Regions from separate parts of the Homo sapiens genome. Here region 2 is linked to region 1. The links come from fine-mapping of genetic effects on gene expression. Tissue or cell type: tibial artery. Region 1 holds a variant in brackets; the other region holds the start of a gene. All regions are shown on one strand. Distances are between the middles of the regions.

Evidence for each region. PIP is the estimated chance that this variant, and not a neighbour inherited with it, causes the effect.
Region 2: it holds the start of HGS, and the variant in region 1 is the best candidate, but not a certain one, in a credible set for the expression of HGS in tibial artery (GTEx, PIP 0.76).

What each region holds. Positions count from the first base shown.
Region 1 is chr17:81,719,112-81,721,863 of GRCh38, forward strand. It overlaps SLC25A10 (solute carrier family 25 member 10), which reads left to right. Exons shown (of 11, transcript NM_012140.5): 10 at 720-776; 11 at 865-1,901. The coding sequence ends at 966. Among named protein-coding and RNA genes, the nearest start is that of SLC25A10, 8.2 kb to the left of the region's middle. The variant G/A (reference allele first, on the strand shown) is at 1,546.
Region 2 is chr17:81,682,756-81,685,255 of GRCh38, forward strand. It overlaps HGS (hepatocyte growth factor-regulated tyrosine kinase substrate), which reads left to right and starts at 1,256. Exons shown (of 22, transcript NM_004712.5): 1 at 1,256-1,348. The coding sequence starts at 1,312. ARL16 (ARF like GTPase 16) reads right to left here and starts at 1,042. Exons shown (of 5, transcript NM_001040025.3): 1 at 938-1,042; 2 at 781-839; 3 at 258-371. The coding sequence starts at 998. RefSeq lists enhancers at 507-726, 944-1,238 and silencers at 827-906, 1,117-1,176, 1,387-1,486.

The sequences.
Region 1 (2,752 bases):
TAGTAGAGACAGGGTTTCACCATGTCGGCCAGGCTGGTCTTGAACTCCTGACCTCAGGTGATCCGCTTGCCTCGGCCTCCCAAAGTGCTGGGATTACAGGCACGTGCCACCACTCCTGGCTAATTTTTGTATTTTTAGTAGAGACAAGGTTTCGCCATGTTCGCCAGGCTGGTCTTGAACTCCTGGCCTGAAGTGATCTGCCGCCTCAGCCTCCCAAAGTGCTGGGATTACAGGTGTGAGTCACTGTGCCCGGCCAAAAACATTTCTTTCACAGATTAACAGAGGTGGTGCCGTTCATGGCAGTCTGTGCCTCATAGGTGCTCTGGGTCTCCTGTCTTGGGCCCCCGCCAACTCCATGGGGCTTCCACGTTTGCAGAGCCCATAGCTCTGTCCCTTTTCTTCTCCCTGACGCTGCCGTGCTGCATCCCTGATTCTCATGGTTCTGTTCACAGCCCCCTCTGCCCACTGGACCCCGGGCTGCACCCTCGGGCCCTGGTTGTACCGCATGAGCAGGCAGGGTGGCCGTTGACCTGGCTGGTGCCTGCAGACCTGTGGTCACCTGTTACCAGCCAGCAGCCGCCGCTCACACCCACACCCACACCCACACCCCACATTGAGAATGCCCAGGCCACCGTGCCTGGCTGGTGCCTGGGAGGGGATTTTCGTTGCCTTTTGGGTGAGAAGCAGCCTTTTTGATTGTTTCACTGCGTTTTCTGCAGGGCGTTTTCCACTGCGCCGTGGAGACAGCGAAGCTCGGGCCTCTGGCCTTTTACAAGGTGCAGTGGTGGCGGCAGTGGCGGCTTGGGCAATGGGGAGCGGGCCCCTTCGGGCTCTGTGTCTCTCATTTTCCCTGTCTCCCTCCAGGGCCTCGTCCCAGCTGGCATCCGCCTCATCCCCCACACCGTGCTCACTTTTGTGTTTCTGGAACAGCTACGCAAAAACTTTGGCATCAAAGTGCCATCCTGACCAGCCGTGGGAATGGCTGGGCTGCCAGGCCAGACACGCTAGGTTCTTCCAAAGAGTCCCAAGCCCAGCACCTGCTCCTGGGGCCACGACCTCCCTGGCCGTGGCCACCCGTCCTCCGCAGCAGGCCCCTGCTGTCCCCCCACCTGCTGGCTGAGCTCCTCCTGGCCTCGTCCCCTCTCAGCTGTAGCTGCACCACCCCCGCTCTGGCTACCAGGCTCTCCCGGCTGGGCACTGCGTGGCCTTGCCCCTCTCCCGCTGGCAGCTCCTCAGGGGAACAGGGGCTACCAGAGGCTGATTTCTCCCCTCTCCTGGGCCAGGGGAGGGGTATTATCCCTGCCTCCTGCCCCCGATGCCCAAAGCAGCATCTTCCAGCACTTTCCATCGAGGACTTGGGTGGCAGAGTGTGGGTGCAGCCTGGCTGTTGCTCACCCAAGTGCTAGCTCTGCACTTCGTGTCTGCTGAGAGCAACCAGACCTTCCATGTCCTCGGGCAGCTGCAACTCCCCGCGAGACCCCGCAGCTGGGTGGGATGAACAAGCAACGCAGACCACAAGCGAGTGCCTGGGAGGGAGTGGCCCAG[G/A]GTGGTTCTGGAGCCATTGTGGGTGAGGGTCGAGGGCCACCGAGGTCCCGCGCACCGCTGCCTGCCCTGCAGTGGCTTTAACAGTTAGTTTTGCCAAAGCCTCTCCACTCACCAGCAGGCGGTCTCTGTCTTCAGGGATTGTGCCTGCGTCCCTCGGGCACCTGGGCCCCCCCGCTTGGCTCCCTGGGGGAATGGCCCAGGCGGGCCGCGGTTCCTCCTTAGGGCCTTCTCCCCGACAAGGAGTCCGACGGGGCGGATGCTGCATCCTCTGCCTCCCTGGTCGCTGGGCTTCACCCCACCTGGGAAGGGCAGTGTGCTCTGTGGGGGCTGCAATCAATAAATGCCGGGAGCTGCCACATCTGTTCCTGCCTGCGCTGCCTGCCCGCTGGCTGCCTTGCTGTCCAGACCAGCAGGACCCCCTGCACCCCCTAAGGAGGACCGGGCCAAGGCCTTTTGGGGAGGAGCCAGGGTCCTCGCTGTGCATTTGGATGAAGGAATTGGGGAAGTAGGAGGAACCAAAACCGGTGTGGGGGGAAGGGAACAAGACGGTGAGGCTGGGGTTGAGGGTCTCAGACACAGGATCTGGCTCTGTCATTCAGACTGGAGTGCAGTGGCACGATCTTGGCTTACTAACCTGGGCCTCCTGGGCTCAAACCAGTCTTCTACCTCAGCCTTCCAAGTAGCTGGTGCTATGGGCGTGCACCATCATACCTGGCTAATTTTTGTATGTTTTTGTAGAGTTGGGGTCTCACAATGTTACCCAGGCTGGTCCCAAACTTCTGAGCTCAGGGGATCTGCCCATTTTGGCCTCCCAAAGATGCCCTTTTTTTTTTTTTTAAGACAGGGTCTTACTGTGTCACTCAGGCTGGAGTGCAGTGGCGCAAACAGCCTGTAGTCCCAGCTACTTGGAAGGCTGCGGTGGGATCCTTTAAGCCTGCAAGTTCGAGGCTGCAGGGAGCTATGATCGCACCACTGCACTCCAGCCTGGGTGACAGAGCGAGACCCCATTTCAAAAAAAGAATGTAATGGTGGGCCGGGTGTGATCTCTCATACTTGTAATCCCAGCACTGTGGGAGGCTGAGGCAAGATCTCTTGAGCCCAGGAATTCGAGACTAGCCTGGACGATATGGTGAGATCTCCATCTGTACAGAAAATTTAAAAATTACCTGAGCGTCATGGCATGCACCTGTAGTCCCAGCTACTTGGG
Region 2 (2,500 bases), 36 kb before region 1:
AGTCTGTTCTCTGCGGAGCAGCAGCCCTGCCCTCAGCAAGCCCTCTGTGAGCTCCTACCGGGGGCCTGGGAGCGCAAGCACCAGAAACCAGACAGGGTGCCCAGCAGGAAGCAACACTAGCTAAGACCTATTTCCATGAGTAGTATAGTCACTAAATAACCCAAACCCCTTTCTACACACAGCAAGGTTGGGGACTGGACGTCACAGAAATGTAGACACACTTCCCTAAAGGAAGCCCATATAGGATTACAACCCACCAGGAGAGAACGGCAGTTTCCATAGTAACTGGACCAGATGGGGCCCATGCACCCCCCAAGCTCCCGGATGGTGATCTTTCTCTGTGCCACGATGTCAGTAAGATTGGTGCCCACCTATAGGAAAAACCACGATGCAAAAAGAACAATACAACCGCTGTCCCGTTGTGAACTCCTGAAGAGCACCGTGCCCACACCTTACACGGTGGCCTGAACCCCGCAGACCCATTCTCCCTAACGCAGGAACGGCGAGCAGGGACCGACGCCCATCAGTAGCTGGACTCGCTGTGGGGGCGACCAGCCACAGGAAGCCGTTGCGAGGGGAGAGGAAGTGCCCGTGGAGGGCGGCAGGCCCCCTCATCCCGCGCCAATTATCCTCAGCTCGGGCCGTCCCCCGCTCCCGAAGGCTGGCCTTAAGTCACGACCTGACCCGCTGCGCCTCGGCGTGCACTTAGAGGAGCCCGGAGCTCTTCGCCAAGCGCAGAACTGACCCCCCGCAACTCCACCCGCGGGGGCGGACACCTACCGTGGGCCGTGTCGGGGGCGGCTCCCCCAGGTCGCCTTTCCCATCCCGGGAGCTCACCTGTGCGAAGCGGTCAAGGACCCGAGCAGCTAAAGGGTGAGTCCCCGCCCCACTCCGGGTGCCCCCCGCGCCCCGGTCCCGTCCCCGCGCGGAAGGATATCCTGCAGCCGTTTCACCAGCAGCGTCTTCCCGACGCCCGTGGCCCCCAGCAGGAGACACATTCCGTGCTTCGCTCCACCCGGCACCCGTAGCTCGGCGCCGCGGCTCAAGGCCCGCCCACCGGCCACTCTCATTGGATAGTTCTCACCTTCGGACTTCTCATTGGTTCTTAGGGCTCATTGTTCCAAGGGCGCGTCCAATTAGCGCGCAGCGTTAGCGGGAGAGCGGAAGACCCCGCCTCCTCGCGGCTCTAGGGCCGGCGCGGTGACGTGCGCGTGCGCGCACTGGAGGGAAAAGGCGGAAGCGGAAGTCGGGGGGCGCGCCAGCTCGTAGCAGGGGAGCGCCCGCGGCGTCGGGTTTGGGCTGGAGGTCGCCATGGGGCGAGGCAGCGGCACCTTCGAGCGTCTCCTAGGTAACGCGTCCCCACCCGACGGCTCGGCCTTGGTCAGCCCGCAGCCTCCGCCCGGCGCTGAGTCAGCGCGGCCCCGAGGGCCCGAGGGGCGCGGACCGGCCGCCCTGCCCGCCTCTCCCCGGCCCGCTGTCCTCCCGGGTTCGGAGCCGCCGATCCTGGACCCTCGGCGCGGCCGTGGGGTCGGCGTCCGTCGGGCGTTGGCAAATGGGGCTCTGCGAGGGTCCGCGCAGGGCGCCAGGGGCGCTCGGCGACCTCGCTCCTCCGCGGGCCCGGGCATTCGGCCGATTTCCTCTTGACCGACGAGCACCCGGCCGAGTGGGCCACAAGGCCTGAGTCATGAAAGTGGGTGACTCAGTCGGATGTTAGGCTCGCACTTGGGCTTCTGACCCAAAACACTGGGCCTCGAAGGGTGGAGCCGGCAGTGTTCTCTCTGGGACCTTCGAGCTCTCTTGGGGGCTGCGGGTCCCAGACCCACCTTTTGTTCCCACACTGGCTTCGGGAAGTGCCTAATGGTTTAGGAAGGCGTTTTCTCACGTTTTTGGAGGTGAAAGCTGATCCTATCTGAGCCTCCTGGAATTGACGCGTTTTGGGAGGGAAACGAATGTTGATGTGCACGTGCCCAGCAGCACGTGGAAAATGCGTCTAATGTTTGGGGGTAGGAGCTTGGGTGGTCGAATGGGCTGCCCAAGCTTGCCTTTTTGTCAAGTAGGGTTTTCAAGGAGACTTCAAGTGAGACACCTTCCTTGCCAAGGGAACCAGCAAGCAGACTGAGTATCTCAGCCACACAGGTAGTTCAGTGCTTCAGGGATGAATCCAGAGGTTAACTACTGAATCAGTATAGAAAGTGGACGTGGCTTGGCTTGTTAGATCGTTTCTGTATCCGGGAAAGGCGATGTGGGCAGAGCTGGAGCTGCCCCCCCAGAGGGGCCAGTTGTTGGAGACAGCAGTGATGTGGTATGATGACAGGTATGCTGGCGAGTCCTCCTTGGAGCCCCGTTCTGCCCTTATTTCCAAAGCACTTGGCTTGGAGCAAGGGGCCTGGAGTCTACACTGCAGGCCTCTCTAGCCCTTGCCCAAGCTAAGGTCCCATTGAAACCGGGAGCATCTGGGCGAACGGGGACTCCAAGGGACGGGTGATAGGGTTCTTTGTTG